Regions from separate parts of the Homo sapiens genome. Here region 1 is linked to region 2. The links come from fine-mapping of genetic effects on gene expression. A gene starts in region 2. The other region holds a variant in brackets. All regions are shown on one strand. Distances are from middle to middle. Region 1 has its middle 72 kb from the start of MIR8079. Region 2 holds the start of TSC22D1 (TSC22 domain family member 1).

Region 1 (5,372 bases), 310 kb after region 2:
GGCCCTTTCATGTTCCTTGCACAGGATATAATGGCAACCATGACACAGACTCTGGGCTGAATTTAGATAAACAACATGGCTGCTGAGGATTTGTACCTGTTAAAAGTCTAAGAAATGTCAAAGGTTGTAGTAAGTATGACTCAGGACAATTTCATTTAAGTTGTCAAAAGTAGGAAAAAGTCAGCAGTATAGCTGATCACTCTCTTTTGTGCTTTTTTGCACTTGTAATTTCCATGACTCTCACTAAACTGCGGGAGGTAAAACTATTTTTGTTCTCTGGGCTTTTGCGTCGTGTGTAAGCTGATTCCCAAGTTTGGGTAATATTGTGGAAAGCGTCAGTACCACCACTGAAGCCTCCTGGAGCCCCATCACCTCCACCCTCTTCCCGGGCAGGTGGAGTGAATCTCCCTGACTTTGAATTTCCAGAGTACTCGTGCATGCCTCGATTACAGCACTAGTTGCTTACAGCAAATTATCTGTTCACGAGTCTGCCTCCCCCACTGATCTTTGACCCCCATAAGGGGTTCTTTCATTGCCTTTTGTATTCTCAATGTGAGGACAGTGCCTGGGACACAGTAGGCACATATTTGATGCTGTGCGGTCATCCTGATTCTGGAGGATGATGTTTTTGGTAGTCAAATGACAATGGAATAGAGCCCCATGGAAAGACAGTTCGGAGGTAGAGGAAGGAGCAGAGAATTTGGAGACCAGAATTCCTTTTTTATTTATTAGATGTTCCTGTCACTATGGGCCAACCATCAGTTTGACCTTTTGTCTCCCATGCAGTGATAATAGTGCTTTCCTTCTAGATTTTTGGGAGAGAATTAAATGATGCAATAGATATGAAAATGACTTTGCGACTGGGCTGAGTTTTATGGAGGAGAAGCATCATCATTAATGAAAAGAAGCAACTGTAGCCAGGGATTGGGACAATCACACTGCTGTGTAGTTTCCTCACATGCTCTTTGGATGATCTTGGGCACGTAAATTACTTCTTGCCTGTTGTGGATTCTTCATCTCTAAGGAAATTGTCAGTTCTATTTCCCAGGGTCGTCGTGAGGATCAAAAGAGATAACACACGTGAATATAGTTTAAGATTATTTGATAAAGGGGGGATGAGTTTGTCCAGGGTCTTCCTTTTGTCTATTTTCTTTGCTGTCCTCTTGTCTGTCCCTGCCTCCACACCACCAATTCTGGGCCTATGTACGTGCATGTAACCCAGAGGGTTCTTGGCAGTCTGCTATGAGGATGGGATGGAGGAGGGCAGTGGAAGCCACCTGTGCTGAAAGCCCCCTTTTGGGGAGATGCTTTCAGGTGTACAAACAGACACATACATTTCTGATATATCTGTATCCAACTGGGCCCAGGTAATGCTTGCCACTCTTAAATAAGATCAGCTTTTTCTGTCAGCAAGACAATGTAAGCAGTTAGGGTTCTTCCCTGTGCACTGAAAATAAAGCACTTTGAAGCCTGATTAAGTAGATAACCAGGACCCTAGATTCACCAAAATTATGTTGCTACATTAGTATTTACAAGAAACATTAGCAAGCCAAGGCACACAGCTGGTGTGTCAGGGTATATGTTAAGACAGTAATCTGTGGTCTGTCCTCTGGTAGAGGAATACAGTTGGGTGAGACTCTGTTGTACTTTATTCATTTTATCCCAAGTTTCTCTTTCCAACAGGTCTTTTAGATTGTGAACTCCCAGAGAAGAGAGACATGAGGGATCTTGGGGTGTCAAGTGGAAGCTGAGAGGGAGCAGACGATATCCCAAGCCTGGGGGGCTGTTAGAGATTGGTGAACCCACCAAGTGACAGCATTTTCACCCTTCTCTGTCCACACCCCAGGTTAGCAATAAGACATGGGCAGAAATGGTTGTGTAGAGTTCCCAGAAGGACTGAACCCCAGGGAATGAGGCTACTGGCTCCAGCACCAATTGGATTCCTCTGCCCCTTACACAGGCTGGGAAGTACCAGGCACTCAGACTTCAAGAGATCATGTCAGCTCTTTGTTTGACCCTGGTAGGTCAGAAAACCCCAGTAGGTACTGAGACAGGATCTTGAAACCATTGCTCAGAGTTGGATTTGATTAAAATAAATAAATGTGACATTTCTTGGGTGGCTGAATATGAGCAAACTTACTCTCACTTTGTTGGCACTATTTATTTTAGAAATTTGACTCCCATGGGGCTCTATGGGGTCAGTTGATATCCAGTCCAGTTTCTAGCATCTACATCTTCAGGAATGTAGGGGTTCGAAGTGTTGGCAGTGGAGCAAGAGGAAAAGCTGACAGCCAGGTTTCAGAAGTCAGACTGGCGGGGTGTAGTGGAGACTGCCATTCACCTGAGCTGGGAGTTCAGGTGTCTTTCACTTCTCTTCCCATTGAGAATCTTTCAAAGCCGTGGAAGTTGTGACAATGGCAAACCACTAACCAGGTACCATGCTAAGAACGTAACACACATCAACTCATTGTTGATGTCAATACCCATAGCAACTTTGGGAGCTTCCCATTGTAGAGATAAAGAAACTGTACAGAGGTACAGAGATGTGCAAGATCACAGAGCTAGTCAGAGATTGAGCCAGGAGTGAACCAGGTAGCCCATCTTCAGAGTTCATGCCCTTAGAAACTGCATTCTTCTGCCCGTCCATCTTGACTCATCTAAGCTGGGTTGTTAGGTGTCATTTGCATATTCTTTTGTGGTAATTAAGAGGTAGAGTACTTATTTTTTTTAGGACAAATCTGTAGAAGTCCTAAAACAAAAGGGGATCTCTGGATAACTCTTGGTTGTTTCATGTCAGCAGTACAAAGCAATTCTC[C/T]TCCTAGCACATTTTGCTTAATCTAGATTTTGCGTCAACAAATAACTTTCAGTAACTGAGGCAATCTTGAAGCGGATTAGAGCAAATTCCTCCTGTGCTACTCCATAACTAAACCAAATCTGGTCTGGTCTGTGGGGCTTGTCTTTGGAAATGCTGAGATATAGGGAGTGGCAGGGTGAAATCACAACATTCTCTTTGCTTTCTGGCAAGAATGTTGAATTCTTACTGAGCGGATGTGGCAAACACAGAGTGGTTGGTTTTATCTGAACCGTTCCATTAAAATGAAATTTGACTAGGGATTTGAAGAGTATTATGACTACCTTGGGGAATTCCTGTGTGGATGTAAATAGAGCTTAGTATTTGTTTATAGGTAAATACCCAAAAGATCATCACAGGTGAGGGTTTAAAAGATACAGCAAGAGTAGCTTTTAAATCAGGGCTTTATTTTATATGTGGGTACTTCGCACATAGCACTAATTTCTGGATATGAAGATGACATTTCTTATGGTACTTTCAACTCATAGTTATATAGCAGAGGATTCATATAAAGACAGGTATATTTGTGCTCTATGTAGGTTTTAATTTTATCCTTAATACTAAGAGAGAGTAACATCCAAGTGACTAGAAGCTTCCCTTGTTAGAAGCCTTGAAACTGCTCCATTCCTCCCCTCTTTCTCCCTGCCCAGGGAATCTACCACAGGGCTTTTTGCTGCAATCAAAATAAGGCTCAGCAAAGAGCAAATCATTGAATGCAAGTCATCTGGGAGGCCCCTCCCAGCCATTTTGTCCTTAGTGCCCTTATACTACTTTTCATTTCTGATCCAGCTTTCCCCTTGGACTGAGATTTCTGACTCTCTGCTCCAAAGCCATCTGTCCATCCATCCATCCATCCATCTGTCCATCCATCCATCTATCCATCCATCCAGCCAGCCATCCATCCAGCCAACCATCCATCCATCCATCCAACCATCTATTCATCCATCCATCCAGCCAGGCTCCCATCCATCCATCCATGCGTCCATGCATCCATGCATCCATCCACCCACCCACCCATTCATTCATCCAGCCAGCCAACCATCCATCCATCCAGCCAGCCAGCCATCCATCCATCCAGCCATCCATCCATCCAGTCATCCATTCATCCATTCATCCAGCCAGCCAGCCAGCCAGCTACCCAGCCAGCCATCTATCCATGTGCCCATTCATTCTCCTCCTCAGGTATTATCTATTCCCTGCCTTCTCCACACTAGTCCTTCTTCAGTGCCCCAGACCCTCCTGCATTGGCTGTCCTTGCGGGGCCTGTGGACTTCCAGTGGCTCCTTCTCTCATCACACAGGGGTATGCAGGGCACTGTGAGGCCATCCTCAGGCTCACCTTCCAGGAGCCCCCTCCTGGCCAGTCTGAGTCCACTGTTGTGCTGGGGTGGCTGGTTGGCAGTTCCCATCCAGCACACCCCTCTGTGATTGGGTCTAAGCCCACATGCTGGAGTGGGAGGAGGGGAAGTTTGGGGGACAGAAGGCTCCACTTCTTTCTGTGTGGTGTGAGCTCCCTTGCATACCTTCTTTTATGCCCTGCTATGCATGGTCAGCTGGAAAAGCTTTGAGTCTTTATACATTGTTTTGTTTTGTTTTTAAAGCTTTAGAAACCCTGATAAAATCCTTTCTCTTACCAGTTGTTCTTACTTCTTTCTTTTTTTTTTGAGATGGGGTCTTGCTATGTTGCCTGGGCTGGTCTCAAACTTCTGGGCCCAAGCATCCTCCCACCTCAACCTTTTGAGTAGACTTACAAAGTCTATCGCCTTTAGGGTGAAGAACAATTTGAAATTCACAGCATAACAATGGTGTCTTTCCTCCAGTTAGCACGTCCCCTTCCTGGGGCTGCGAGTCTCAGCAGCACCCTCCAGTGTTGCTGGCAGATGAGTAGGGTCAACAAAGGGCCTCTGGGAAGACACAGCAGGTGAGAGTTCAAAGCACCCCTGACTGTGTGTGAGCCCACCTGCATGTGGATTTATCTTCCACAGACTGTCCTGCAGTGGTGCTCTTTTTCATGGGACATGGGAAGCTGCTTTCTTTTTATATTGCATTCAGATTCTGACATCAAAACTTGAATGGAAGTTCTTGATCTGGGAATCCCTGCCCACAGCCCTAGACCTGAGTGCATGGGAAGCTCTGTGCTGGGCTTGGCCATCACACTGCATCATCTCTCTCCCACTGCCCCTAGGAAATTTGGCCTCAGGTCTGTCCTGAAGCAGCAGCCCTGGGGTATGACCATCTGTGAGGCTGGCAGACTAGGGAATCCTCTGGGAGGGGGACCCTCCCTAAATTTAGACTCTTTTGTCAAGTGCAGGCACTCTCTTAAACTTAGACAGCTTGATGCTTGTTTCCTAAGGGTGTAGACAACAAGGCTACCTGAAGAGCTTCAACATTTGGCCCTGGATTGTGGCTACAACCATCTGTCTGACATAGTGGCACTCCTCCCAGCCATACTGAGGGAGCACTTCCTAAGTTTCTCATCTTTATGGCCTCAGAATTCAGCCATTCCGTACTGTCTTGCCTCT
Region 2 (5,372 bases):
TACTGTATCACTTTGAATATTTGCGAGAGCCTATTTACTTCTAGCAGAGGTTTACATTAGCAATATAAAGTAATAAATAAATAAATAAATAAATAAATAAATAAATGAAGTCCGGGTTTTTCTTTTCAGTGTGGGAGACCCCACATAAAGCAACAATGTATCATAGCTTTGACACTGGATAAATGGGATGTTAAGAGTGCACTTCTATTCAATAACATGCAAATGGTGACATAATTCACTTTTTGAAAGCTTCCCCTTGGAACAAGGGGAAGAGTTCAGAGAAAACTAAAGGTAAAAAGTTGAACTGACAACTAGAGGTGTATCAAAACTGCAAATGACAATCGTTTTTGCTTTAACAATCTTCTGAAATAGGAATGTAAATCCTTGAGACTTCCTGAATCAGAGGTCTAACCATAAGCGTTGATTCCCCTAACAACCTAAATTTAACAAAATGAAAATTCCTCCCTACAGTTTTTCGGCTTGCTTTATCATTTTTAAATTCCTGGGAAAGACTTACATTCTCGATTATTGGTAAGAAACGCTTAGAACTAGGTTTTGACATGAAATACCAAGAAAGTAACCGCCAGTAAATTGCCCCCAATCAAACCTAACATTGCTTCTGTAGAACTACATTTGGACCCATGAAATGTAACGTGTGTGTGTGTGTGTATTTTAAAACTGGAATTTCGGATGGCTTTTTCTTTTCTAGCCCTAAAAGGCATTCTTATCATTTGTGTTGCTCACATGTCCGGACCACCTTGCCTCCTGAGTCAAACCAATGGGGGATATAGCCAGGACGATGAACGAAAAAGGCGTCGCTGCTTGGAGACACCTGTTGAGGTCAGTCGATTACAGGGCCGGCCTGCTTCTGTCCTCCAGTTAAGGATGGATTGCAACCACTCCTCGTTAGAGAAGAGCCTAGCCCAGAGGAGCTCAGGCAGTTAACTGGAAACAGCTGCAACATCTGCCCGGCCGCCTCGCCCCTGCCCGTGGAAGGGCGAGGGGACCGCATGGCAGCAACTGCACTGCACAAAAGACAACACCTATCACCGGGAGCCACCGGCCTTCCATAGACCCCACAGCTCCCGGCCCTAGGGCATCCCCCGAGGAGGCAAGGGCCGGGGGCGAGCCCAGGTGCGGCGAGGGGGAGGAGGTTTCCGCCACGCGCCAGGGAAGAAAGCCTGACTCATGTCGTGGCAGCGGCAGCAGCCGCGGCGGCGGGCTCCTGGGAACTGAAACTCGTGATGCTGTTGCTGCGGAGAAAAGCCTCATTACCCATTCCGCAGGCGGGGGACACCACCCAAGGCGCGCACACCAAGCGCCGGCGCTCCCGCCGCCTCCGCCGGCCCTTCCGCGCCGCGCCCCCTCCTCTGCCGCGTGCCCGCGCGCGCCGGCCGCGAGTGTGAAAAGAGCGGACACACCTAACCTGGGCGCGCGGCAGGCGCGCACCCTGCCCGCCCCCACCGGGCCGAATCACGCAGTCCGACCCGGATTCGCTCCTTCGGCCGGAATTCCCCACCCCCACTATCCCCTCCGGCTCCACCACTCCCGGCTTCGGCGCCTCTGCCAGCCTTCGGTAATTTCCGTCGGGAGACCTGGCGCTCGCCTAGGCCCGAAGACCCGCCGCCTCCTGCCCCGCCAGACCCGGCTTTATGTCTGCGGCGCCGAGGCGCATGCGCAGACGCCATCTTCCCTCCTCCTCCTCCGCCTGCCCCCTCCCCCCAGCCACCACCGCCTCCTCTCGCCGGCGGTCGCCCCTCCTCCTCCTGCGCTCCGCGCTGGTCCCTCCCCTCCCGATGCCGCGAGAGACTGGGGGATACGGTGGAGCCGGGGGAGCCGAAGAAGAGCACTAGTAACAACCACCACAGCCCCCTCCCCGCCCGACACCCTCCCTCGGCACCCACTCACTCCCCCGCCCCGTTTGCCGACACCGACCAACCCCACCTCGTTCCTTTGAACGGCGTCGGCTGCAGTCGCTGCACCAGCCCGTCTGGCCACCAACGCCGCGGAGAAAGGAGCCGCCGCCGCCTGCGGCCCTCTCCCGCCCGGTCGCGGGAGCAGCGGGGTGAGGAAGAGCCGGCTGCGGAGGAAGAGGATAAGAGAGGGTCGCACCCTCCGCCCTAGCGCACGTCCCGCCGCCCTCCGGAGAGGCTCGGGTGCCGGCCCCTTCCTCCCCGAGGACGTGTGCCGAGTCGAGGCGCCTGCCCTGAGGGAGGAAAATGCTCGGGCTCCATGGCTGCCAGTGATGGAGCGGTCCCTGGGCTCCCGCTGCCACCGCCGCCGCCGCGCCCCGGCCGTGCTCCGCGAGGACCCGGCGTCTCTGCGCGCCCGCCCGCGCCTCGTTGCTGGGCTCACCGTACCGGGCGCCTCGCCGCCGCCCCGCTCGCAGCCGCGTCGCCCCGGCCCCAGCCGCGGCCAGCGTTTCCTCACCGAGCAGCCGCCGCGAGCCCAGGGGGTTTGAAAGGGTCTGCGGGGCGCGGGGGGAGGGCCGAGCGGGGCCGGGAGGGGAGGTTTGAGCGACACTGAGCTCGGGGCTCGCTGGCGGCGGCGGCGGCCCCGGGGGTGGCGAGGGGAAGGCGACATTTGCTTGGCGCTGCCTCCGTGCAGAGCGGCCGGGAGGGCTTTGCAGCGGCCGCCGACGCGGCGGGAGGAGGGGGCTGAGGCGGCTTCGGAGTTGGCCGGAGAAGGTGGGCATTTCTCGCTTTTCCTCCCCTTCCTGCGCTCTCCCCCTCCCTCCTGCCCCGCACCCCACGTGAAGCAGAATATAAAGGGGGGTGTGAGGCTAGAGGGGAAAGTGAATGGCGAAGGACTGAAGGGATCCCCCCTTCGGGTCCCCGGCCGCCCTGTTCACCCTCGTTCATCCTCCTTTCCGAAGCTCGCTCTCGAAGGCAGGAGCGACCGGCGCCTTTGGCTGAGGAGGAGGAGAAGGAGGAATCGCGCCAGGCGGAGCGTCAGGTCCCGTTTTCCTCTCCGGCGTCTCCAATACAAAGATTACGGTGCAGAAGGAAATTGCACTCGTCTCCTCCGCGCCCCCGGTACCCAACACAATGCACCAGCCGCCTGAGTCCACCGCCGCGGCCGCCGCCGCTGCAGACATTAGCGCTAGGAAGATGGCGCACCCGGCAATGTTCCCTCGAAGGGGCAGCGGTAGTGGCAGCGCCTCTGCTCTCAATGCAGCAGGTACCGGCGTCGGTAGTAATGCCACATCTTCCGAGGATTTTCCGCCTCCGTCGCTGCTTCAGCCGCCGCCCCCTGCAGCATCTTCTACGTCGGGACCACAGCCTCCGCCTCCACAAAGCCTGAACCTCCTTTCGCAGGCTCAGCTGCAGGCACAGCCTCTTGCGCCAGGCGGAACTCAAATGAAAAAGAAAAGTGGCTTCCAGATAACTAGCGTTACTCCTGCTCAGATCTCCGCTAGTATCAGCTCTAACAACAGTATAGCAGAGGACACTGAGAGCTATGATGATCTGGATGAATCTCACACGGAAGATCTCTCTTCTTCGGAGATCCTTGATGTGTCACTTTCCAGGGCTACTGACTTAGGGGAGCCCGAACGCAGCTCCTCAGAAGAGACCCTAAATAACTTCCAGGAAGCCGAGACACCTGGGGCAGTCTCTCCCAACCAGCCCCACCTTCCTCAGCCTCATTTGCCTCACCTTCCACAACAGAATGTTGTGATCAATGGGAATGCTCATCCACACCACCTCCATCACCACCATCAGATTCATCATGGGCACCACCTCCAACATGGTCACCACCATCCATCTCATGTTGCTGTGGCCAGTGCATCCATTACTGGTGGGCCACCCTCAAGCCCAGTATCTAGAAAACTCTCTACAACTGGAAGCTCTGACAGTATCACACCAGTTGCACCAACTTCTGCTGTATCATCCAGTGGTTCACCTGCATCTGTAATGACTAATATGCGTGCTCCAAGTACTACAGGTGGAATAGGTATAAATTCTGTTACTGGCACTAGTACAGTAAATAATGTTAACATTACTGCTGTGGGTAGTTTTAATCCTAATGTGACAAGCAGCATGCTTGGTAATGTTAATATAAGTACAAGCAATATTCCTAGTGCTGCTGGTGTGAGTGTTGGGCCTGGAGTTACCAGTGGTGTTAATGTGAATATCTTGAGTGGCATGGGCAATGGTACTATTTCTTCCTCTGCTGCTGTTAGCAGTGTTCCTAATGCAGCTGCAGGGATGACTGGGGGATCGGTTTCAAGTCAGCAGCAACAACCAACAGTTAACACTTCGAGGTTCAGAGTTGTGAAGTTAGATTCTAGTTCTGAGCCCTTTAAAAAAGGTAGATGGACTTGCACTGAGTTCTATGAAAAAGAAAATGCTGTACCTGCTACAGAAGGTGTGCTGATAAATAAAGTGGTGGAGACTGTAAAGCAAAATCCGATAGAAGTGACTTCTGAAAGGGAGAGCACTAGTGGGAGTTCAGTGAGCAGTAGTGTCAGCACACTGAGTCACTATACAGAGAGTGTGGGAAGTGGAGAGATGGGAGCCCCTACTGTGGTGGTGCAGCAGCAGCAGCAGCAACAACAACAACAACAGCAACAACCAGCTCTCCAAGGTGTGACCCTCCAACAGATGGATTTTGGTAGCACTGGTCCACAGAGTATTCCAGCAGTTAGTATACCACAGAGTATTTCTCAGTCACAGATCTCACAAGTACAATTACAGTCTCAAGAACTGAGCTATCAGCAAAAGCAAGGTCTTCAGCCAGTACCTCTGCAAGCCACTATGAGTGCTGCAACTGGTATCCAGCCATCGCCTGTAAATGTGGTTGGTGTAACTTCAGCTTTAGGTCAGCAGCCTTCCATTTCCAGTTTGGCTCAACCCCAGCTACCATATTCTCAGGCGGCTCCTCCAGTGCAAACTCCCCTTCCAGGGGCACCACCACCCCAACAGTTACAGTATGGACAACAGCAACCAATGGTTTCTACACAGATGGCCCCAGGCCATGTCAAATCAGTGACTCAAAATCCTGCTTCAGAGTATGTACAACAGCAGCCAATTCTTCAAACAGCAATGTCCTCCGGACAGCCCAGTTCTGCAGGAGTAGGAGCAGGAACAACAGTGATTCCTGTGGCTCAGCCACAGGGTATCCAGCTGCCAGTGCAGCCCACAGCAGTCCCAGCACAACCTGCAGGGGCATCTGTCCAGCCTGTTGGCCAGGCTCCGGCAGCAGTGTCTGCTGTACCTACTGGCAGTCAGATTGCAAATATTGGTCAGCAAGCAAACATACCTACTGCAGTGCAGCAGCCCTCTACCCAGGTTCCACCTTCAGTTATTCAGCAGGGTGCTCCTCCATCTTCGCAAGTGGTTCCACCTGCTCAAACTGGGATTATTCATCAG

Evidence for each region. PIP is the estimated chance that this variant, and not a neighbour inherited with it, causes the effect.
Region 1: its variant is the best candidate, but not a certain one, in a credible set for the expression of TSC22D1 in whole blood (INTERVAL, PIP 0.67).

The regions. Positions count from the first base shown.
Region 1 is chr13:44,265,811-44,271,182 of GRCh38, reverse strand. No RefSeq gene overlaps it. Among named protein-coding and RNA genes, the nearest start is that of MIR8079, 72 kb to the right of the region's middle. The variant C/T (reference allele first, on the strand shown) is at 2,816.
Region 2 is chr13:44,573,750-44,579,121 of GRCh38, reverse strand. TSC22D1 (TSC22 domain family member 1) reads left to right here and starts at 2,792. Exons shown (of 3, transcript NM_183422.4): 1 at 2,792-5,372. The coding sequence starts at 3,048. It overlaps TSC22D1-AS1 (TSC22D1 antisense RNA 1), which reads right to left and starts at 3,226. Exons shown (of 3, transcript NR_038381.1): 1 at 2,852-3,226; 2 at 1,945-2,080; 3 at 1-1,020. RefSeq lists silencers at 1,100-1,149, 1,330-1,529, 1,800-2,039, 2,050-2,759 and an enhancer at 3,080-3,319.